Linked DNA regions of Homo sapiens. The protein of the gene in region 3 purifies or fractionates together with the protein of the main gene of each other region. This does not show direct contact. Each region holds a gene or a part of one and is shown on either strand. Other genes may lie near its edges.

What was found.
Region 1: the proteins of SVOP (region 3) and LMAN2 purify together in Homo sapiens (affinity purification with mass spectrometry; one large-scale study listed by BioGRID and IntAct). This does not show direct contact.
Region 2: the proteins of SVOP (region 3) and TMEM33 purify together in Homo sapiens (affinity purification with mass spectrometry; one large-scale study listed by BioGRID and IntAct). This does not show direct contact.
Region 4: the proteins of SVOP (region 3) and FDFT1 purify together in Homo sapiens (affinity purification with mass spectrometry; one large-scale study listed by BioGRID and IntAct). This does not show direct contact.
Region 5: the proteins of SVOP (region 3) and REEP5 purify together in Homo sapiens (affinity purification with mass spectrometry; one large-scale study listed by BioGRID and IntAct). This does not show direct contact.
Region 6: the proteins of SVOP (region 3) and LCLAT1 purify together in Homo sapiens (affinity purification with mass spectrometry; one large-scale study listed by BioGRID and IntAct). This does not show direct contact.
Region 7: the proteins of SVOP (region 3) and HS2ST1 purify together in Homo sapiens (affinity purification with mass spectrometry; one large-scale study listed by BioGRID and IntAct). This does not show direct contact.

The regions. Positions count from the first base shown.
Region 1 is NC_000005.10:177,334,669-177,338,168, reverse strand, and holds part of LMAN2 (vesicular integral-membrane protein VIP36 precursor), read left to right. Parts: intron 1-383; coding exon 384-463; intron 464-644; coding exon 645-806; intron 807-918; coding exon 919-1,033; intron 1,034-3,500. UniProt on the Homo sapiens protein: Plays a role as an intracellular lectin in the early secretory pathway. Interacts with N-acetyl-D-galactosamine and high-mannose type glycans and may also bind to O-linked glycans.
Region 2 is NC_000004.12:41,952,429-41,955,928, reverse strand, and holds part of TMEM33 (transmembrane protein 33), read right to left. Parts: intron 1,860-3,500; coding exon 1,730-1,859; 3' UTR 1-1,729. UniProt on the Homo sapiens protein: Acts as a regulator of the tubular endoplasmic reticulum (ER) network by modulating intracellular calcium homeostasis. Mechanistically, stimulates PKD2 calcium-dependent activity. Suppresses the RTN3/4-induced formation of the ER tubules.
Region 3 is NC_000012.12:109,011,069-109,014,568, forward strand, and holds part of SVOP (synaptic vesicle 2-related protein), read right to left. Parts: intron 1-3,500.
Region 4 is NC_000008.11:11,809,241-11,812,740, reverse strand, and holds part of FDFT1 (squalene synthase), read right to left. Parts: exon of another isoform or gene 3,251-3,500; intron 3,075-3,250; coding exon 2,891-3,074; intron 1-2,890. UniProt on the Homo sapiens protein: Catalyzes the condensation of 2 farnesyl pyrophosphate (FPP) moieties to form squalene. Proceeds in two distinct steps.
Region 5 is NC_000005.10:112,912,228-112,915,727, forward strand, and holds part of REEP5 (receptor expression-enhancing protein 5), read right to left. Parts: intron 1-3,500. UniProt on the Homo sapiens protein: Plays an essential role in heart function and development by regulating the organization and function of the sarcoplasmic reticulum in cardiomyocytes.
Region 6 is NC_000002.12:30,520,246-30,523,745, reverse strand, and holds part of LCLAT1 (lysocardiolipin acyltransferase 1), read right to left. Parts: intron 1-3,500. UniProt on the Homo sapiens protein: Exhibits acyl-CoA:lysocardiolipin acyltransferase (ALCAT) activity; catalyzes the reacylation of lyso-cardiolipin to cardiolipin (CL), a key step in CL remodeling.
Region 7 is NC_000001.11:86,921,135-86,924,634, reverse strand, and holds part of HS2ST1 (heparan sulfate 2-O-sulfotransferase 1), read right to left. Parts: intron 1-3,500. UniProt on the Homo sapiens protein: Catalyzes the transfer of a sulfo group from 3'-phospho-5'-adenylyl sulfate (PAPS) to the 2-OH position of iduronic acid (IdoA) or glucuronic acid (GlcA) within the heparan sulfate (HS) chain and participates in HS biosynthesis.

The DNA.
Region 1 (3,500 bases), on a different chromosome or scaffold from region 3:
TGGCCCACAGACCCTGAGGTGTTTCCTTGGTGGCTCTTCACAGAATGTTTGCTGCCCCTAGTATAGAGGGTAGAGCCTCCTGGGTAGGGCTGTCCTGTGGCTCACTGTTTTTTGTAGGCCAGGTACCCCCTTGACACCTGACATCTGCCTCAGTCCCCTCACAGTTCAGCCTTCAAACTTGAGTCCTCTGTGTCATATGCCTAGACCCCCCACTTCTGAGGAGAAAGCCTCAGCTTTCTCCTTTCACGATCCCTTCTCTCTCGGTGAATGGCCAGTGGGTTGGGCTCTCTTGCCCCCACCCATGTTGGCATTGCTTGCCTTTTAGGTACCCATGGGACGGCTCCTGTTTCTCCCATTCTGAGAGCATCTGCTTATAATTCTAGGGCCTGTGTTTGGAAGCAAAGATAACTTCCACGGCTTAGCCATCTTCCTGGACACCTACCCCAATGATGAGACCACTGAGGTAGGCCCCTGCTCTATCCTGCTGAGCAGGAAAGGAAGGACTGGGCAGTCGGCTAGAGGAGGGGGCCCTGGGACTTCCATGGTCCCAGCACAAGAGGAGCCTCCAGGGATTGGGGTGGTGGGTGCCCCTGCTCGCCCCACAGGCTGGGCTGCTTGTGGAGTAACCGATGTCTTGGTCCCAGCGCGTGTTCCCGTACATCTCGGTGATGGTGAACAATGGCTCCCTGTCCTACGACCACAGCAAGGATGGGCGCTGGACCGAGCTGGCGGGCTGCACGGCTGACTTCCGCAACCGCGATCACGACACCTTCCTGGCTGTGCGCTACTCCCGGGGCCGTCTGACGGTGAGCAGGCTAGGCGGTGGGGGTGGCAGCTGGTGGCCCTGTGCTGGTCCCACAGAGGCTCAGGAGGGCAGGCTGCTGTCCTGCGAGGTGCTTAGCGTGCTGGGCCCTGCAGGTGATGACCGACCTGGAGGACAAGAACGAGTGGAAGAACTGCATTGACATCACGGGAGTGCGCCTGCCCACCGGCTACTACTTCGGGGCCTCCGCCGGCACCGGCGACCTGTCTGGTGAGTGGGCCGGGCCAGGCGTTGGTTCCCAGCCCAGCTCACCCTGAGGGACTGGGAGCTTTCCATGCAGTTGATTGCCTGCCTTCATGTGGTTTCTGAGCTCACCTGGCTGTGTTCCTCCTCCTCCTTTCTTCTGTAAATGGCCTGTCCGGGCCTCAGTTCCTGTGGTTTCTGGGCTCACCTGGCTGTGTTCCTCCTCCTCCTTTCTTCTGTAAATGGCCTGTCCGGGCCTCAGTTCCTGTGGTTTCTGAGCTCACCTGGCTGTGTTCCTCCTCCTCCTTTCTTCTGTAAATGGCCTGTCCGGGCCTCAGGCCTTGAACGGTCCCTTGGCAACCTTCCCCATCAACAGGAGGCAGCGGGTCAGTTAGATTTGGGCAATGTAGATTCCCAGATTTATCTCCAGCCCAGACCGCTCTGGACCTGCTCAGCCCTTGTGCCCACAGCTGAGGCCACATCTTGCCCATCGGGATGTCAGTGGCACCTGTGCCCCTCTATTTGCTTGCTGTCTTTCCGGACCCTTCTTTCTCTCACATGGCACCTCTGGTCCATCAACAGTCCCTGTGGCTTTATTTTCACAGCACGTCTCACCACTTCCCTCCCCTCCCTGACTACCTGGCGGCTTCAGGCCACCAGTGTCTCTCACAGGAGTCTCCCAAGTGGTCCCCTCCTTCACCAGCCCCCAACAGTCTCTCGTGAGCACAGCAGCCGTGTAATCGCCTTCAGTAATCGCCTTCAGCCCGTGTGAGGCCTCCTGCTGCTCTGCGCAGAGCTCTGCAGGGGGCGCCAGGGCCTCTGTGCCAGCCCTGCCACCTCTGGCTCCCTGCTCACTGCTCCCCCTGCCTACTGTGGCTTCCAGCTGCTGCCTGGATGCGCCTGTGCCCTCCTGCCCCGGCTGTTTCACCCTTGTCTCCTAGGGCCTTGCTCAGATGTTACCTCCTCAGTGCGGCCTTCCCTGATGCCCTCGTGGAATGTCGTGCCCCCTCCTGTGTCCCCAGCCCACTCCCCAGCATCTTTGCTGGCTTTATTTTTCTTCATAATATTTACCATCTTTGAGTCTACCGAGTAATTAATTTTATTGTCTCTGGCCCTCCTGCTCAATTGTAAGCTCTATAAATGGCTGTTTGGCCCAGGGCAGGTGCTCAGCGAGCACTGGGGTGCCTCTAACCTGCTCAGGCCTCACTGGTCACCAGGCCGTGGTGGCCCTTGGCTGTGGTTCTCGGTTTCTCTTTGGGGCCCTGAGCAGGTGCCAGGCCCAGGGCCAGCTCCTGACCAGAACTGGCACGTGACACGGGGGACCTGACATGGGCGGTTTATCCTCAGGATGACCCATTCCAGGGCCTGTAGTCTGCCCACTGCCCAGGAGCCTCCTCTCTCAGCATGGAAGTGCTTGGGTCCGCTCAGACCCCAGAACATCCATTGTTTGGGGGTTTTTCAGTCACATACCCAGCAGAGGAGAGAGGTCTGGTAAGCACCCTTCCTGCCAACCAGCTTTCATCATTTCCAGCTCGCGCCTGGCTGGTTTCCCTCCTGCCCCGGGTTGCCTGGAACTTCATCACACTGTTTCAGCCCTTGTCTTTGGAGGGTTCTTGATAGGAGCAGAGCAGCACCAGTGCTGTGGCCGGTGGCAGCTCTCACAGCTGTTGGGAGAGCCCAGCACAGAGTGGAGGAGGCACCATGAGGGGAGCCGTGTCTGACCACTGGTCAGGGGTCATCAGTGCCAGGCACCTTACGGGTGATGTCACCTGATGTATTTTTAGGCAGATGGCCATCTCGTTCCCTTTTTACTCAACCATTGGGAGTTTGAAAACTGAAAGGATTTTTCCTAAGATACGAGCAGGAAGCAGCAGAGCCCAGATGGGAACTGGGGCCTGACTCCAGGGCCGGTCCTTGTCCTGCAGGGCCGCTCGCCGTCTCCAAGGGCTGTGCATGCTCGGCTCTCACACTGTGTGCCTGGCCGAGCTCTTGCTCATTAGGTCCCCCCTTGGCTCCAGAGATTCCTGCTCCCTTCAACAAGGCCTTTCCTCAGATTCCAGTCCCAGGCTGACCAGGACCCACGTGTCGGCTTTGAGCCTCAGCCTCCTCATCTCTACAATTGGGTGATCCATCAGCGTCAAGCCAGGGCTCTTCCCTGTGCATGCCATTGGACAGAGCCTTTCCCCAGTCTCCTCAGGCACAGCTGCTGACCTGCGTTAGGCTCAGGCCCTTAGCTGGTTGCCGAGTTGTTCCCCTGCAGCCTGTATGTGGGTCTCTGTGGCAAGAATGTCTGGTGGCTCCTGCCCTTGGGACCTCAGCCTTCTCAGCCAGTCACACAGCGACTGTTGGTCTTTCCCGGGTCTGTTTTTGAGCACTTATTCTGCAGGCAGGCCATCTTCTGTGTGGTGTAGACCCTTCTCATGTACTTGCCATGGCAACCACACAGATGGAGATCATCACTCCTCTACATGTGCGGAACATGAGCCTCAAAGAG
Region 2 (3,500 bases), on a different chromosome or scaffold from region 3:
CTTTTTAAATTATAGGAAAAAACTAACAGCTTCAAAATAAACATGACTTCAGCTGCCAAAATTTCTTGATATAATTCAAGACTTCATTTTTTAAAACATAATTAGAAATCAACATTATGTTTACTTAACATTATAGTCATTTTATTGCTCTAGAAAGTTTAGTTTCTAAAACCATTGGATTACTTACATAGTGACAATAAGACTAGCCACATACACAAAATCAACTGTATGAGGCTGCTTCTCCAGCTTAGTGGACAAATATTACAAAAATACAAAAATAGCTGATTATAGTTAAGCTATCAAGTATAATTTTTCATGTATTTATCCTAAGAATATCCCCTTTTTATAGATAAGGAGATGAACAAAAATAAAACTAATGTTACTGATAAATTACTAATGAATGTATTTGAGAAATCCAAATTACATGCAGACAGAAACTGGTCACAAAAACCATTACATTTCTCTATACTAAAACTGTACAATGTTTTAAACATTTCCAATCATGCAACGGTAATGAAGATCAGCATGAATTTTATAAGAGTTGATGGGAGTTCAATGAACAGGATTTAACACATTTTACAACCCAAATCAAAGTTGAATAATACATCCAATTCCCCTAAATTTATCTATGCGTTGAGACTGAAATGCACATTATTCCCCCACAACTCCTCCCCCTACCCCATTCCCAATCAATTACCTTACCTATAAAACCTTCCATTTAACCTTTTAAGTCAGATTTGATGGGTAAACATGTAATCTACAGTATACTCTCCATTATTATTTCAGGATAGACACACATATAGTCAGATGCTGAATCTTCATTACATTCCTTTCAAAAGGCATCTAAACTGTTGCAATTGTCTATGAAAATTCAAGCCTAAGAAACCAAGAAAACTGGCAGTCAAGATTCTGAACTAGGTAGTTCTACAAACTATAATACGAATAATCTATATGTCCACATTAGTAAAAGAAGGATTTCCTGTTTGAGAAATGTTTCTCAATGGCTCTTTGAAGGGAAAGCTGTGTCACTACTGCTTTCTGCTTTCAATGGCTAGGTGACCCCAAATATTTATCCAACTGGCTAAGAGGCTTACAGTTGAGCCTTTTAAAAAATACTCAAGGCCACAGAAGTACTTACGGAAATAAAATTTTAGAAGATCATAGTTTAAGATACATAGAATTCTTCTTATAATGGTACATTCAAAACACATCTGTCCTAACAAAGCAGCATAAAACCAATTAAAAAAACAATTTGAAATTAAATACACTGAGAAGTGTTAAAATCATTAACCAAAATTACTGAATGGTAGAATACTGTCTCAAAATGTACTGAATTCACATATGTGTATCACCATAATGAATTCATGCCAGATATAAACTCAGGTTACCAATTAGGTTGAAACAAATTTTAGAGCTATTTTTTTTACATGAGAAATTAATGTACTTCATGATATAGGCACAACAGCATCTTTTTAAAAAAACTGGTATATTTATCACTAGATACAGACTTCTTTAACCATTAGCAACACAGCGCAGTAAAATTTTCTCAAAACTTTTTAAGCTTGATTTAACATGCCAAGAAAATGATTATTTTTCCACCGAGATGCATTTATGTAAATTATGTAAATTGGATTGAGGTCAGTGTAACACCTGGAATTTACAACCCCTAGCAGAAGTACCAGCTGCTAATAATGCTTATACTATATTTGTAGCTTAACTAGATGTTAAACTATGGAACTGTTGGTGCCAATCTGCTTATAAAGGCAATGCTCTGGAGACAAAGTCTTCTCACAAACAGTGGGCAAGCAGGTTTCATTATTATGTGTTCAACAACAATCCTCAGTTCATTAAATAAGGTCCTGCAAGACAAAATAGTTTTCTTTGAGAAACACAAGGAAAAAGCAATACACAGGCTTACCTCATTTTATTGTACTCCATAGATATTTCATTTTTTACAAATTGAAGGTTTGTTGCAACACCGCATACAGCAAGACTATCAGTGCCACTTTCCAACAGCATGTGCTCACTTCATGTCTCTGCGTCACACTTTGCCAATTCTTCCACTATTTCAAATGTTTTCATTATTAATCTATTATGGTGATCTGTGATCTGTTCTGTTACGGTGATCTCTTTGGTGTTACTATTGTAACTGTTTTGGGGCACCACAAACTGCACAAATATAAGATGAAGCAGTTCATGAAGGCCATTCCTGATTGGTCTCTTTCCCTCTCCTCAGACCTACCTATTCTTTGAGACACAATACTGAAATTAGGCCAATTAATAACCCTGTAATGGCCTCTAAGTGCTCAGGTGAAAGGAGGCCTCCCATGTCTGTTACTTTAGATGAAAACTAGAAATGATTAAGCTTAGTGAAAAAAGCATGGCTAAAGCTAAGACAGGCCAAAAGCTAGACCTCTTGTGCCAAATAGCCAAGCTGTGAATGCAAAGGAAAAGTTCCTGAAGAAAATTAAAAGCCCATTTCTGTGAACGGATGAATGATAAGAAAGCAGAACAGCCTTACTGCTGATGGTAATGCTATTGCGCACTTAGCAGACTACAGTAGAGTGTAAACATAACTTCTGTATGCACTGGAAAACCAAAAAATTCATCTGACAGCTTTGTGATATTCACTTTATTGTGGTAGTCTGGAACCACTCCCACAACATTTCTGAAGTATGCCTCTAATGCTAAACAAATACTCATGAAGGAATCTACCATAGCCATTAGAATTTGAAGTAAAAGAATAACTAGAATGCATTGTAGAGAAAACACAAAATACAATGAAATTCTCAAACAACACCTACATCTTTTATGGGTGGAAACACTCATTTAACAAAGGTATTTAATAAATGGCTATCTCTAAAACCTCAGATTAAATTTTAAAAATTATATATATATATTTTAGAGTCACATCATTTTCACATTTAACTTAGGCAATTTCAACTAGTTTTTTAAAACAGAACAAGAAAAAATATACTACATGGACAGTGTTTTTTATATATTTTAAAATATATAACATGGACAGTTATATTTATTCACCCACTATTTCCTTAAATGTACATATTGTCCCTCAGAGATTTCCTCTTCTGTAAAATAATTCTGAGTTGTGGTGAAATTTAAATGCAATATGGAAGATGCTCAATAAATGTTACTTCCCAGTTGGATCAATACACTGAACTATGACTCTTTTATGCCTTCCGACTAAAGCCCAAGTACTCGGTGTCACACCCAATACCCTCCACAATCTAGTCTCAATCTAATTTTCTGCCCCATCTCCTGCCACTCCCTGCCCTCGCTCCTATCATCAACTTATGTTGCATGTTTGTGCCCAAAACCATGTGGGCTTTGCCTATGTCTTAACTGTGCTCACTGCCTACAAAGTATTATTACATACTGTAGATATCACATATATTATACAGGCTAGTATACACAAAATCATGTATACTGTACTGACATTTATAAGTGATATGAAGGATCATCAAGGGTAATTTTAACCATTC
Region 3 (3,500 bases):
CATACCTGGCTAATTTTTGTATTTTTAGTAAAGACAGGGTTTCACCATGTTGTCCAGGATGGTCTTGAACTCCTGACCTCAAGCGATCCTCCCACATTGGCCCCCACCAAAGTGCTGGGATTATAGACGAGGGCCACTGCACTATCTTATATAAGGCACTCAACAATCAGACTATTCCCCTTAAGTCATTGAAACACACATTTCTTAAGTGAAGCTGGCTGGCATAAAATGTAAACATTTTTGAAATGAAGGGGTGTGAGCAACTCTGAGTGTGAGGTTTTAAAGGCTGTGGTGGGTTCCCTTGGGGGATGCCCAGGCTATTACAATAACTCCCTACTTTTTGCCTGAAGTGAGTGACAATGATGCCCTATCTCTCTTCCTTGTCTAGGGATCCTCCCCCTCCTTTGGCCCCACTAGGTCTCAGGCGGATGGGAGCCAGCAGGAAGTCTCACGTGTGCCTTTGCCACCTCCTCTGGTCCTGTGTCTCTATGCAGAGCTTCTCCCCTAGAACTCAAACACAAATACTTGCCTGGCTTAACATGGGCTCAAAGAGTTTACCTGGGACAATTTCAACAGCAATAGTCATATAATCATTGTAGCATTATTCATAGTTACCAACCTATGGAATCGACCTAAGTGTCCATCAAGAGATGAATGGATCAAGGAAATGTGGTATAAACACAATGGAATACTATTCAGCATTAAGAGAGAAGGAAATCCACTCATTTGCAACAACATGAACGAACCTGGAGGACATTGTGTTAAGTGAAATAAGCCAGGCACAGAAAGACAAATACTGCATGATCTCATTTATATGTGGAATCTGAAAAAGTCAAACTCATAGAAGCAGAGAGTGGAATGGTGATTACCAGGAGCTTGGTAGGGGCTTGGAGGAATTAGGGAGTTGCTGCAGGTAAAAAAAATTTCAGTTAGGCTGGGCGCAGTGGCTCATGCCTCTAATCCCAGGACTTTGGGAGGCTGAAGCAGGCAGATCACCTGAGGTCAGGAGTTCAAGACCAGCCTGGCTGACATGGCAAAACCCCGTCTTTACTAAAAATACAAAAATTAGCCGAGTGCAGTGGTGGGTGCCTATAATCCCAGCTACTCAGGAGGCTGAGGCAGGAGAATCGCTTGAGCCTGAGAGGTGGAGGTTGCAGTGAGCCAAGATCACGCCACTGCACTCCAGCCTGAGCAACAGAGCGAGACTGTCTCAGAAAAAAAAAAAAATCAGTTAGACAGGAGAAATAGGTTCAAGAGATCTATCGTACAACATGGAGACTATAGTTAATAACAATTTAGAGTATTGTATACTTGAAAATTGCTAAGAAAGGAGATTTTAAGTGTACTCACCACAAAAAAGGATGTGAGATGATGCATATGTTAATTAGCTTGATTTAGCTATTTCACAATTACACGTATTTCAGAACAACATGTTCTACACCATACATATGTAATTTTTATTTGTCAATTTAACATTTTTTAAAATATTAAAATAATTAAAAAAATTTCATGTAATCAGTAGTCAAACTGCTGTTCTCCCAACCTCCCTGATTTAGTCAAAGAAAATAAGGAAATACGGCCAGGTATGGTGGTTCAAGCCTGTAATCCCAGCACTTTGGGAGGCCAAAGCAGGTGGATTGTTTGAGTCCAGGAGTTTGAGACCAGCCTGGACAACATAGCGAAACCCCGTCTCTACCAAAAATATAAAAAATGAGCCAGGCGTGGTGTCATGTGCCTGTAGTCTCAGCTACTGGGGAGGTTGAGGTGAAAGAATCAGCTGAGCCCAGGAGGTTGAGGCTGCCGTGAGCCATGATTGTGCCACTGCACTCGAGCCTGGGCAACTGGAGTGAGAGCCTGTCTTAAAAAAGGAATATGGGGAAGCAGAAAATAGACATGAAGAAACAAAGCTATGTCTGGTCTTTCCAGGTAGACTGGGCTACACAGTTGCTAAAACTTAATAGTGGTTCCACTGTCAGGGAAAATAACACAGCCGACAGACAGATTTTTCTGGTTTTTCATTCATGAAGTGTTCCTAATCATTTGGCCTGTCTATATTGGTCTACACTGGAATCCAGTAGTAGGTGAAACTGACAGCAATATCCCACACACTTGGGATACATCAGATCCCACCCTTGTGAAACTCTCATGAGGGAAGACAAACACTAAACACAATAAATAAGCAAATTATAGAGTTTATTAGCGATGATACGTGCTATGAAAAAAAGAAAAAGGAGAATATGGTATTGGAGGATAGAGGAAGAAGGCTGCAGCTTTTTTTCCAATTATGATTAAATACACATAACATCAAACTTACCGTCTTAACCTTTTTTTTTTTTTTCTGAGACAGAGTCTCACTCTGTCACCCAGGCTGGAGTGCAGTAGCACGATCTTTGATTACTGCAACCTCTGCCTCCCAGGTTCAAGTGATTCTTATGCCTCAGCCTCCTGACTAGCTGAGATTATAGGTGCATGCCACCACACCTGGCTAATTTTTGCATTTTTAGTAGAGACGGTTTTCACCATGTTGGCCAGGCTGATCTTGAACTTCTGGCCTCAAGTGATCTGCCTGCCTTAGCCTCCCAAAGTGCTGGGATTACAGGCGTGAGCCACTGCACCCAGCCCAATCTTAACCATTTTTAAGTATACAGTTCTCTGGCATTAAGCACGTTCACATTGTTGTACAATCATCACTACCATCCATCTGCAGAACTCTTTTCATTTTGCAAAATTTAAATTTAAATTCAGTACCATTAAACACCAACTCCCCATTCCCTCTCCCCCCACCACCGAGTTCCTGGAACCACCATTTTACTTTCTGTCTCTATGGATTTGACTGCTCTAGGCACCTCATATAAGTGGGATCATGCTGTATTTGTCTTTTTGTGACTGCTTTATTTGCACAATGTCTGCAAGCTTCATCTGCATTGTAGGACTGCCCAAATTTCCTTCCTTTTTTTTTTTTTTTGAGATGGAGTCCCACTCTGCTGCCCAGGCTGGAGTGCCACGGTGTGATCTCAGCTCATTGGGACCTCCATCTCCTAAGTTCAAGCGATTCTCGTGCCTCAGCCTCCCAAGTAGCTGGGATTACAGGTGCATGCCACCACACCTGGCTAATTTTTGTATTTTCAGTAGAGACTGGGTTTCACCATGTTGGCCAGGCTGGTCTTGAACTCCTGCCTTGGCCTTCCAAAGTGCCTCGGCCTTCCAAAGTGCTGGGAATACAGGCATGAGCCACTGCACCCGGCCAAAATGTCCTTCCTTTTTTAAGGCTGAATAATATTCCAAATGTGGATAGACCACATTTTGTTTCTTGAAAATTGCTAAGAGAAGAGATTTTAGCAATATTGCACAATGGAATATTATTCATCCATTCGTCAGTCCATGGGCATGGGTTTTCATGTTTGGCTATAGTGAATAATGCTGCTGTGAACATAGAAGTACGAATATCTCTTCAATACCCTGCTTCCCATTATTTTGCATCTATAACCAGAAGTGGAATT
Region 4 (3,500 bases), on a different chromosome or scaffold from region 3:
TTGAGGCTTATTCCTAAATTCTGCAAGGCCTGGGATAAGAGGACAAATGGAGGCCCACATACTATATGTAGCTAAAAATTTAAAAATGATCAATCGAGCTAGTAACTTAAGTAAAATATATTGTATCCTCCTGCACTGACAAACTTATCTTTGTAACAACCTGGTTGATTCAGGTTTGAATTTAGAATTCTTAGTCCCTCAGAGTTTTATTCCAGAATGCAGCAGGGCACAGACAGCTGATCCCCATATCCCAGGCTCTTCCCTTCCACTGCTTCCTGAATCCCGCTCTCTCCAGCACTGGGAGGCACCTCACATTCATTTGAGAGGATATCCCAGCCCTCGGTGCCAGGATCCATCCACAACACTCCCCAACACAGCCCTTGGCCATCACTCAGGCCCAAGGGCACAGTCAATGGTGGCACGTTCCCACCTGGAGGAGATGGACTGACCTTAGGAAATAGACTGTGCGGACGCAGACGTGGGCTCAGGGATTTGGGGCAAGGAACTCCAGATGTCCAGAACGTGGTACAGAAGGAGAGCCCACGAGAGCTGAACAAGCACATTCCCATGGCCCCAGTGATCCCTCACCCCTTTGGGAGTGAGGGGGCCTAGAATGGGGCACTCTGAAGTGAGGAGTTTCACTTGCCCCAGTCTAAGAGCAGTACTGTGTGTGAGGCCAAGGTATCAGTCCTCTTTCACACTACTTGTTCCATCCTGGGACCTCTTAGCCAAAAGCTGATTGCAGGCCTAGCCCCAGACAACTGGTTTCAAAGACATACTGAGCTATATCAGCACATACACAAATCACTCCTTAAGAAGACAAGGCACTGTTAATTCCCATACAGTCCCATCTCAAACTGAATCACAGACTGGAGGGACCTACAACTCAAGTAGCTTAAAATTATATATGCACGCAAAACACACAACTTAGTACATCTTCATATTCGTAAGGATACAAAAGGTGAACAACAGTGAAAACAGCCGTGCCTGGCTTACGCCTTCTGCTCCCTTTTACTCTTCCCGGGGCAACTGTGCTTTCAAGAGGATGGAATCTCTAACTCTACTACCCAAAAAAGAAAACGATGAGTTCAGTGTTCACATCTGAAACCTTCCAGAACTAAGCATTATTTTTCCACTGGAACACTGTATGAACACAGGAAGACACTGAAGTTTCACAAACATGTTGGAATATCATCTGGAAATCTGACGGCGATATTCCCCAAAATTATGTTAGCATTCACACACTTTCATATTCCCTCACTTCTGCTGAGGGGATAGGGCTGCCTTGACTTAGCAATACCTAACACATTTATCCCATGCCCCAGAAATTTTTTAATTATTATGAATCCACTCAAGTCAAATGTAATTTGGCTGTTTCTAGAGGCTAGGTCCAGCTAGAATAATATTAGTTGTTTTTAAGTGAGAATGCACTTCCATTATAAATGGGGTATTACTACTTCCTCTGCTTCAGCAGAATTCAGAGGCCCATCAATGAATCGCCACAGATTTCCCATCAAAGGAAACCCATCCTCTGGTCATCAGGTGTCCTGTGAGAGTCAAATCACCAGGACCTTCCCAGGGTTACAGTTCTAATTCTCACCCAGCTAGTCGTCATAAATTTTCTTTCTTCTCTTGAATTGTACTGTATAAACTCGAATTATTCTTCAGCTATTTTCTTCTCATTTGTATTATGTTGTACTATATTTGGGCTTTGGTACTTAAGGTCTGATCTCAGCAATCTGAAACAGCCTTTGCACCGCAAGAGTCTTCCCCAAACATTCCTTTTTTTTTTTTTTTTTTTTTTTTTAAATATTGCTCCCATTATGCCCAAGAATCAAAGATTCTTTTGTTTGGGTGGAGGACTCTCTGTCCACTTAGCTCCCTCCCAACTCAGCTACAGATTAGGTTTGTTTCAATAACATAAGGACTGTTCTCCAAAAGCTCTGGCAACTGTGGACAAAAAGGGCTTCTTCGAGCTATTACACAACATGTGACTTTGCTAAATCAAACCTTTATTTATAAGATATGGAAGAATCAGTTATTTGTGTGATAAGACATGCGAATTCTAGGATAGTAGGACCTAGGCAGATGTCCACATGAACTTGAGGGACTTTAAAAATCTTAGGATTTTAACTATAACCCACTTTACTCCAACAAAATAGACCAAATAGCTAATACTTACAGAATACTTACCCTGTACCAGGCACTAAGTACTTTATATGTGCGAAATTAATCCTCTCAGCTCTAACTTTACAAACGAGGAGACGGAGACACAAAGCAGATAAGGAACTTGCCCAGGATCACAGGTGAAGTGGCAGAGGCTCGCCCTAGCTGCCAACAGACACCGCCCCCATGCCAGGCTGCTGCCCATCGTGAGCAGCAGTCCCATGCTACCAGGCTCCGGGTAGTCAAGAGGCCAGCAGTGTTACAGGTAGGCTGCATCATACAGTCGGCAGGCTTTTGTGAGCTAGCCTGAGAATCTTTCACAACACTAAAATTTGACTGCGTCTTCCCACAGGAAGAAACACTGGACTTCCAATACTGATAATAACAGCAGTAGCTAACATTCTAAGAGCATTACCTACGTTAATTCTTTGAATCCTCAGAATACCATGAGGTAGGTGTTATTATTACCCCTATTTTACAGATGAAGAAACTGAGGCACAGAGAGTCTTTGTAAGTAACCAACAGTTTAGTAAGTGGGAGATTTGAGATTCCAACCCAGGCAGCCTGGCTTCAGAGTCTTGGCTACCGGAGTTTTTAACCCTCACATTATGCTGCCCTCAGAATGCTTATTTAACCTTTCTCCACATGTATGGAGGCTACCGGACAACCACGTTAGCAATTATGAACACAACAGTCCGTAGACAAGATGCGTAACCCCACTCACCGTTGGGAAGTCCTCCAGCACCTGGCGATCCTTCTCCTTGCTCTCCATGAACCGCCAGTCTGGTTGGTAAAGGAAAGAGTGAAAGTTGTGTAACAGCGGGACCTTCTTTTCCACACTGATGGTCATGTCATCTTCCAGTGTGTCCAGAGCTCGGAGAACCAGATAAAATATGCACACTGCGTTGCTGTAAAAAAGGGAAAACTATTAATATATTGGAACAAACAGCCAAAGATTTTTTATTTTAAAATAACTTGTGCCTGGCCACTTTCTAAACCCATCTCACCCTTAACTCTAAAGAACTATAAGGATATCCAACGCTTTTCATACTTAACGAAAGTTACATTAGTTTTCCTTCCTTACATGAGAGTAATGAACTTCTGTAGTTTATTAAAAAGCCTACTAGTTGAATGTCACCACTACTCCCAGAAGTGAGTTGCATTTAACCAATGTAGAACTATGGAGACCAGAAGACCAAACGTTTAGACCGAACTAATATGTAGCAAATAGAAAAGAAAGTCAAAAAACACAGTAACTTCTCAGTATAAATACGATCATACATAAAGGCAACTGGTCTAAGTTCATGGGTGTAATGTGCACAGAGGCAGCTTCA
Region 5 (3,500 bases), on a different chromosome or scaffold from region 3:
ACTCACACCTAAGACACATAGGTACATACTATGTGTTCTGTGCATGGTTCATAAGTAACTCAGTTGCTACAATTCAAACTAGCCAAATGACATAAAATTAAGTAATAGTATGTCTTCACAGCATTGGCTTTATTATTCAAACCAGTTGTACCAATATCAACTATTTACCAGAGACTGACAGTGTGGAAAAAAAAGCAGTTCATTAAAATATATCTATATATCCATTTATACCCATATATATTTTAATTTTATCCATATATATGGATAAAAAGCTTTAAGATGTCCTATTGGTAAAGAACAGAAAGGAATCATCTTCTGGTCCATCTGCTTTATATTTTATTTCTAATGTGGTAACTTATGTTTAATAGCAAATATTCCAGAGGTTAAGATAGGTTCTTTGGAAATTGAATATGAAGAACATGGACCATAATGTTTATAATCCTTTTTGTTATGGCAGACACATAACTTGACCATCCTCCATGCCCACCATGCATGGGATTGCTTTTGGCTGTATTTATCAGAGAGTATGATGTAGGAATTCTTAGTAATTCAAAATGGTTTTCCTATTATCAGTACCTCAAATAAGAAGGAAAAAAGAATCAGACATTTTAAGACATAAACACTAGTTCGTTTCCATGCCAATAAGGAAAATATTTTTCTCCTTCATAGAAAAAAAGAAGGCAGGAAACTATGCGTGATCAGAAAGTTACATATCTTTTTCACTGCAGAGTATATGTGCTTTTAAAGCAAGAGAGAAAACCAACAAACAGTACGAGAAAGACTAATGAAAGACTGACCGGGCACAGTGGCTCATGTCTGTAATCCCAACACTTTGGGAGGCCAAGGCAGATGGATCACCTAAGGTCATGAGTTCAAGACCAGCCTGGCCAACATGGTGAAACCCCATCTCTATTAAAAACACAAAAAATTGGTGGCAGATGCCTGTAATCCCAGCTACTTGGGAGGCTGAGGCAGGAGAATCGCTTGAACCCGGGAGGTGGAGGCTGCAGTGAGCTGATTGCGCCACTGCACTCCAGCCTGGGCAACAAGAGGGAAACTCCATCAAGAAAGAAAGACAGAAAGAAAGAAAGACAGACAGACAGAAAGGAAAAGAAAGAAAAGAAAGAAAGAAAGGAAAGAAAGAAGAAAGAAAGAGAAAGAAAGAGAAAGAAAGAAAAAAAGAAAAGAAAAGAAAAAAGATTACAGAGGCAGTGGAGTGAGAATAGCTAGAGCCTGGGAGGTCAAGGCTGCAGTGAGTCATGATTGCACCACTGCACTGCAGCCTGGGTGACAGAGTATGACCCTGGCTAAAAAAAAAAAAAAAAAAAAAAAAAAATTAAGATGAGTCTATAGAATACCTATAATGAAGTATAAAGAAAAAAATGCAGTCATTCAGTGGTCAAATCTTTTGGTGTTTAATTACAGTGATCTCATTTACCACTATCCACCATTTTGTTTTTAAATGCAAAATGGAAGAGTCAGTCACAGTCAAATATAACAATGCGGAATGTGGACAGACATCCCTACACTTAAGACTGAATTGGTCCCAACACACCTGTGACCTATGTCAATTAACTTCAGTTTGTGGCCTTGATTTCCACATCTGTTACAGGTGGCTATCACCCTAGCAGCTTAGTCTCTAAGACCCCTTTTAGCTAACATTTTATAACTCAAAACTGAATGTGTGTGTGTTTGTGTGTGTGTGTGTGTGCACCCAGGAGTTTGAGACCAGCCTGGGCAACATGGCAAAACCCCATCTCTACAAAAAATACAAAAAATTAGTACACACCTGTAGTCCCAGCTACTCCAGAAGCTGAAGTGGGAGAATCACCTGAGCTTGAGAAAGTCAAGGCTGCAGTGAGCTGTGTTCATGCCATTGCACTCAGCCTGGGTGACAGAGTGAGACCCTGTCTCAAAAAAAACACACTCAAAAAAACCAGGCTGGAGTGCAGTGGCGCAATCTCGGCTCATTGCAACCTGTGCCTCCTGGGTTCAAGCAATTCTCCTTCCTCAGCCTCCCAAGTGTGTGTGTGTTTTTTTGAGACAGGGTCTCACTCTGTCACTCAGGCTGAGTGCAGTGGCATCAACACAGCTCACCACAGCCTTGACTTTCTCAAGCTCAGGTGATTCTCCCACTTCAGCTTCTGGAGTAGCTGGGACTACAGGCGTGTACTAATTTTTTGTATTTTTTGTAGAGATGGGGTTTTGCCATGTTGTCCAGGCTGGTCTCAAACTCAAGCAATCCACCCATCTCAGCCTCCCTGCCTGTCCCCCCAAAAAAACTGTTTGAATGATTGATGGTAAAAAAGATTAATGCCAGGAGCAATAAAAGAGCAGATGCAAATCCCACTGGGACAACCCTTTGTCAATAAAACCAGTGGTTCTATAAGTATCTGTGTCAGATTGGTATCATAAAGTTTAACTTAATCTCAAGTAACCTCACAACTTAGAAGGGGAACAACCTAAGCTGCCTTTTCCTAGGTAAAGGAGGGCCACCTTAGATGCGGACCGCAGTCTAGACAAGTGAGCGATCCCTTAACTAGATCACTTGGTCTATCAGAGGCTGCAGGATATATATAGTAGACACATGACTCAGAGTGACTGATAAGCTCCACTCCCTGGAATCAGGAAAGTGTGCAAGTGACAGAATGAAGTCAGGGTACGTTTCTACAGCCCCCACTTATATTTCAGCTGCTACAAAAAGTAATTTCATTCACAATTTTGAAATTGTTTTAAAACTTCTGCCATATTAATTCATACTTCCCCAAAATTAATTGTTAATGTTATGAATCACCACTAAATACCTTAACATGTTATATTTGTATTTATACTTGTTTTAAATGCCATGTGAAAAAATTAAGTTGAAAACTGAGTCCTCATTCAAAGTCAGTCCTGAAAAAGAGAAGTCCAGGTCAGAAGGAGATGAGGGAGGCTACGACAGAAAGAAGGACAAATAGACTAAATCTCCAGGGCCTTCATAAAGAGAAAAAAAAAAGCTCATAAGGAACATTCCAGAATAGAGTATTAGAAATGAGATCCTCCTCCACAACTGCTTTAGAGCCCAGAAACTCTGATCATGAATAAATAATTTAAATCATTCATCTTATTTGCTTTTTAAAACTTTATTTTCTTTATGACACAGGCAAGCGGGCGAACCTTAACTGAAACGCTGGCTGTCATTATTTTACAAAATAGTCACAAGTTGTTATAAGGATATTTTTATTACTTTTTCATTTCTCCACAACACTTTCATCTTAAAAGAGTCCAGCACTCTTAGCAGTAATGTTAAGTGAAACAAGGACAGTAAAAAAGTTGAGGAAGGTTAAATGTTTAAATGCTTAAGATTTCAGATTTAAATTAAGTAAATTAAAGATTTAAATGTTTAAGTAAATTGCTTAAGTCACAGTTTGCAGAATGCCTGTTATATTTTTTATCCAAGTGCACATCGGCCAGAAGGCCACATTGGCTTGTGCTTCATACTACCCCAGAAGGCAAAGCGC
Region 6 (3,500 bases), on a different chromosome or scaffold from region 3:
CAGACACGCGCCACCACACTCATCTGATTTTTGTATTTTTAGTAAAGACACGGTTTCACCATGTTGGCCAGGGTGGTCTGGTTCTCTTGACCTCATGATCTGCTCGCCTCAGCCTCCCAAAATGCTGGGATTACAGGCGTAAGCCACTGTGCCCAGCCGACTATTTTTAAATTTCTACTGATACTTGACAGTACGTGTACAAAATCCTTCAAAGTACAAACTGAATAAATATCAACTAAGAGCTGGCTTTTTGCTAAACTCTAGACCTAAACTTTAAAGAAGTGGGGTAACGGAGTAATAATGGTAGAGAAAAAGGCCACTGGAAAGCAGCATGCTGAACAATTCCCAGAGCTCACACATGGGGCCTAGAGTGGTCTGTGTTACCACCTATCCTCAACTTTGTTTTCTCTGAGGCTCAGGTCCTCCTCTTTGCGTTGATGACACTATAGCTAGCTTCTCCCCAGAAAAAAAAAAAAAACCTACGAACATCTTAATTTGGTATTGTTAATGCCTACTTCCTTTTATACACCCACCCCGCCCCCCAGTCCTGCAACGCTGCTGCTCTGTTTGAAACCCTGTAACTACCGTTTTCTATCTACTGTTTTTTTTTCTGCCAATTAGTGATTAGCTAGCTCTGTTTAACACTCACCCCTCAACTCCCTGCAGAGCTACACTTCACGTTGTATCCATATATAATGCTTCCCTTATCAAGGCTCTGGCATGCTTCTTCCTCACCAATTTCTGATTTGATGTGATTAACAGAAAAAAAATAAATTAGCTATCATATAATAAAATATTTTCATTATGCAGTGATGAAGCTGAGGCTCAGGAGAGTTAAGAAGACTTTCCTAAATCCACACAACAAATTAGTAGCATCAAATCTTTTCTGCTTACTGCTTCTTCTGCTATATCATGCTCTCTTTCTCCTGCGAAGGGGCCAGAAATTAGCCCTGAAATATGTCTCTAAACTCAGACTTAAGCAGGTAGAAAGGTGTGTGTCACATGAATATACTGGGATTACTCAGACCAAATCTAATCTAAAATTACTTCTATCCTACTTCTATTCCTTCCCTTTCAATCATTTGTTGATTTTCAATGATTCAATAAACATACAAAGATATCCCAATTACCGTGTGCCAGGCACTATGTTAGTCATCTGGGGATTACAACAGTGAATATGACAGAAATTGCAAAGCTCTCACAAATCTGATGGTCTCTCCATCTCTTCCTTATGAGCTCCTATGTGACTCTGCATTTAATCCAGCCCTATTCTTTATCTTCTTCCAAGTCTCAAGAGTTTGATGGACAAACTTGGTTCCAAATTATGCTAGCTATACACTTATTTGGAATAGCTAAAAAAAAAAATTTTAAAACAATAAAACCACTGACAATACCAGGAGCTGACAAGGATATGCAGCAACCAGAACTTGCAAACATTGCTGGTGGGAATGCAAAATGGGATGGCCACTTTGGAAAAGTTTGGTAGTTTCTTAAAATCCTAAATATACACTTACAATAAAACCCAGAAATTCTACTGAATATCCAAGACAAATGAAAATGTATATTCACACAAAAACCTATACGTAATTATTCACAGCAGCATTATTCATAATTACCAAAAACTGGAAACCAGCCAAATGTCAGTCAGGGAGAATGGATAAACAAAACCGTAGTACATCCACACAATGGCATACTACTCAGAATAACGACAAACTACTGATCCATGCAACATGTTGAGTTAATCTCAAATGTATTATGCTGAATGAAAGAGGCCAGACTCAAAAGATATGATTTTAAAATCTTTTACTGGATTATTTCATTTATATGACATTCCAGACAAGGCAAACCCAAAGGATAAGGAAACAGATCAGCGGTTGGCAAAGATTACAAGTAGGGAGATGGTTTGACTACAAAGAAACAACACAATATAAGTTTAGGGGGTTGGTCCAGCGGTGGCTCATGCCTGTAATCCCAGCATTTTGGGAGGCCAAGGGGAGCAGATCACGAGGTCAGGAGATCGAGACCATCCTGGCCAACATGAGGAAACCCCATCTCTACTAAAAATACAAAAATTAGCTGGGCATGGTGGCGCGTGCCTGTAATCCCAGTTACTAGGGAGGGTGAGGTAGAAGAATCGCTTGAACCTGGAGTCAGAGGTTGCAGTGAGCCAAGATGGTGCCACTGCACTCCAGCCTGGTGACAGAGTGAGACTCCCTCTCAAAAAAAAAAAAAAAAAAAAAAAAAAAAAAAAAAGAAGAAGTAGTTTAGGGGGTTGAGGAAACTGTTCTATTTCCTAGTTAGGTCACATTACAGCAAAGCTGTCCTGATCCAGACCCCAAAAGAGAGTTCTTGGATCTCGCCCAAGAAAGAATTCAGGGTGAGTCCACGGTGCAACCTGAAACCAAGTTTATTAAGAAAGTAAAGGAATAAAAGAATGGCTACTCCACAGACAGAGCAGCCCTGAGGGCTGCTGGTTGCCCATTTTTATGGTTATTTCTTGATGATATGCTAAACAAGGGATGGATTATTCATGCATTCCCTTTTTAGACCTTATAGGGTAACTTCTTGACATTGCCCTGGCATTTGTAAACTGTCATGGTGCTGGTGGAAGTGTAGCAGTGAGGACCACCAAAGGTCACTCTTGTCGCCATCTTGGTTTTGGTGGGTTTTGGCCAGCTCCTTAACTGCAACCTGTTTTATCAGCAAGGTCTTTATGACCCGAATTTTGTGGTGACCTCCTATCTCATCCTGTGACTCAGAATGCCTTAACTGTCTGAAAATGTAGCCCAGTAGGTTTCAGCCTCATTTTACCCAGCTCCTATTTAAGATGGATTTGTTCCAGTTCACACATCTCTGACAGTCACAAGACTATACACATTTGTGAAAATCCATAGAAAGTATATTTTTTAAAAAAGTGAACTTTACTGTTTGTAGATTTTTAAATAAATTTTTAAAAAATTATGCTATGTATATAAAAATCTGACAATATTTACTATTCTCTTATAATACGGGGAATTCTAATTTTCTGGATTATTTCAACTATAGTAACACCTAAAATGTATATAGCTTTTAAAATATTTCAGGCACTGTTTCATATATTTTACATGCCGACCTGTTCACCAGTCACAGCAATCTCATAATGTAGGTATTTTCATTACCTTAATTTTACATATAACGATACTGAGGCAGCAAGGGGTTAAGGAACTTACTTAAGGCTACACAGCTAGTAAATAACAAAACTGGAACTTTAAGCCAGGTAACTTGGTGTCAGAGTCCACACTCAGTCTGAAATGTTACACTACGCTTCCTTTTCAAGCCATGTATTACATCTGTAGTTAAATATACACCTATTTTTAAATAGCCTATAAAATAAAGATGTTACAATTATAAACTAAATTTTTAATACCTCATACAAAACTTATTCTGAATTTTAGAATTTATACAAACTTAGTGAGATAGCCTTATGTCTTTCTTATCTTACTGTTACTGGCAGGTGTTTG
Region 7 (3,500 bases), on a different chromosome or scaffold from region 3:
CAAGCCTTGGCAGCTTCCACATGGTGTTGAGCCTGCGAGTGCACAGAAGTCAAGAACTGAGGTTTGAGAACCTCAGCCTAGATTTCAGAAGATGTATGGAAACACCTGGATACCCAAGCAGAAGTTTGCTGTGGGGCGGGGCCCTCATGGAGAACCTCTGCTAGGGCAGTGTGGAAGGGAAATGTGGGGTTGCAGCCCCCACACAGATTCCCTACTGGGGCACCACCTAGTGGCGCTGTGAGAAGAGGGCCACTGTTCTCTAGACCTCAGAATGGTAGATCCACTGACAGTTTGCACCGTGCACCTGGAAAAGCCACAGACACTCAATGCCAGCCTGTGAAAGTAGCCAGGAGTGGGGGGCTATATCATGCAAAGCCAAAGGGGTGGAGCTGCCCAAGGCCATGGGAGCCCAACTCTTGCATCAGTGTGACCTGGATGTGAGACATGGAGTCAAAGGATATCATTTTGAAGGTTTAAGATTTCACTGCCCCGCTGGATTTCAGACTTGCATGGGGCCTGTAACACCTTTGTTTTGGCCAATTTCTCCCACTTGGAATGGCTGTATTTACCCAATGTATCTAGGAAGTAACTAACTTGCTTTTGATTTTACAGGCTCATAGGCAGAAGGGACTTGCCTTGTCTCAGATGAGACTTTGGACTGTGGACTTTTGAGTTAATGTTGAAATGAGTTAAGACTTTGGGGGACTGTGGGAAGGCATGATTGGTTTTGAAATGTGAGGACATGAGATTTGGGAGGGGCCAGGGGTGGAATGATATGGATTGGCTGTGTCCCCACACAAATCCCATCTTGAATTCCCCTGTGTTGTGGGAGGGACCTGGTGGGAGGTAACTGAATCATGGGGGCAAGTCTTTCCCATGCTGTTCCCATGATAGTGAATAAGTCTCAAAATATCTGATGGTTTTAAAAAGAGGCATTCCCGCCAGGCGAAGTGGCTCACACCTGTAATCCCAGCACTTTGGGAGGCCAAGGTGGGTGGATCATGAGGTCAGGAGATCAAGACCAGCCTGGCTAACACAGTGAAACCCCATCTCTACTAAAAATACAAAATATTGGCCAGGCGTGGTGGCAGGCACCTGTAGTCCCAGCTACTCGGGAGGCTGAGGCAGGAGAATGGCGTGAACCCAAGAGGCGGAGCTTGCAGTGAGCCGAGATTGCGCCACTGCACTCCAGCCTGGGTGACAGAGTAAGACTCTGTCTCAAAAAAAAAAAAAAAAGGCGTTCCCCTGCATAAGCTTTCTCATTTTTTGCCTGCCACCATAAGATGTGACTTGCTTCTCCTTGCCTTCTGCCACAGTTGTGAGGCTTCCCCAGCCATGTGAACTGTAAGTCCAATTAAGCCTCTTTCTTTTGTAAGTTACTCAGTCTCAGGGCGTCAAAACGGGCTAATACAGGATGTTAAGGAAAGAAATGATACATAATTTTTTAAAGACCTATATTAAACTTCTAGAAGGGCAGGGGGAGGAGTGGGAGGCAACGCCTGAGATAAAAAATAAACTGGGTAATATTAAAAGTGGATTACATACTGCAGAAGGATTGGTGAATTAAAGACCTAGCAGTAAAAACTATCTAAAACAACACACACACACACAAAAAGACTGAGAATGATGAATAGAACATCACTGAACTGTAGAACAATTTCATGTGGTCTAATGTAAGTGTATTTTGAGTTCCTGAGAGGAGAAGCAGCATAGAAAAACTAACGTGAAGAAATAATAGCCAAAAATGTTTAAATGTAATAAAAACTGTAAACTCACAGATCCAAGAAGCTCAACAAACCCCAGGCACAAGAAACATAATACAAGGGCACAAGAAACATAATTTAATAATTAAATAATTAAAAACCTAGTGAAACTCTTAAAAGTAGGCAAAAGAGGAAAAATAAAAGACACGCTACATATAGTTGAACAAAGAATGATGGCAACCTTCTCATCAGAAACAATGCAAGCCAGAAGACAATGAAGCAATATCTTTAAAGTACTGAAACAACAAAAATGTCAGCTTAGAATTCTATACCCAACAAAAATATCCTTCAAACACTATAGCAAATAAAGACTTTTTCAGACACACAAAATGAAAAGAATTCATCACCAGTATATTTTTAAGTGTAAGTAATGTTAAAAGAAATTCTTCAGAGTGAAAAAAATGGTACCACATGAAAATCTGCATACACACACACACACACACACACACACAAAATGAAGAACACTGGGAATGGTAAATATGTCAGCAAATTTTTAAAAAATTTTTAAACATTTTATATATTTTTAAAATATAAGTTAAAGCAAAAATAATAATGTATTGTAGGACTCATGTATAGAAGTAAAATGTATAATGACGATAGCAAGAACCCAGAAAAAAGTGGTAATATATTAAGGTTCTTATACTACACATGAAATTCTATCATGTATACCATAAACCCTTAAGCAACCACTTAAAAAAAAAACAACAACAAAGAGCACTGCTAGTAAGTCATCAAATTAAAAAATGGAATTTAAAAATACCCCTTTAATCCTAAAGACAACAGAAAAAAAGGAATCACAGAACAGTTAAGATAAACAGAAAACAAATAGCAACTCACGAATTTAAACCCAACCACATCAATAATCACATTAAGTGTTCTAAACATTCCATTAACAAAAGAGATTGTGAAATTAGATGAAAGATTAGATGCTGTCTACCAAAAATCCACTTTAAATATAAATACACAAGTAGGTTAATATTAACAGGATGGGAAAAGATATACCACCTGACACTAATCAAAAGAAAACTGAAGTGTCTGTATTAGTATTAGACAAAGTAAGTATCATAGTCCATTGTGTGGTACTATAACAAAATACCTGAGACTGGGTAATTTATAGAAAACAGAAATGTATTTCTTCACAGTTCTGGAAACTGAGAAGTCCAAAATCAAGACACCAGCATCTGTTGAGGGACTTCTTGTGGCATCCTCACATGGTTGGGGGTAGAAATGGCAAAAGGGGGACAAATGCTGTCTTCTTACGTAGAAAAAAGAGAACACACTGCCACAAGCTCTTTTATAACAGTATTAATACAGTTATGAGGGGAGAGCCCTCATCACCTAAACACCCTCCACCTCCCGCCCCAATACTGTTGCATCGGAGATTAAGTTTCCAACATGTGAATTTTGGGGGAGACATTAACACCACAGCAGTAGGTTTCAGAGCAAAGAATATTACCAAGGATAAAGATGGTATCTTGTATAAAAAAAAGGGTTGGTCCATCAAGAAGACATGACAGCCTAAATGTGCATATACTTAATCACAGCACTTCAAAATACATGAAGCAAAAAGTGACATAACTACAAGAAAAACAGACAAATCCACAATTATCAAAGATTTCAAAACCCCTCTCCATAACTGATGAAGAGGCAGAAAAAAATCAAGAATACAAAACACCATAACAATACTACCAACCGACATCTACAGCATACTTCAGCCAATAACAACAGAATACATAT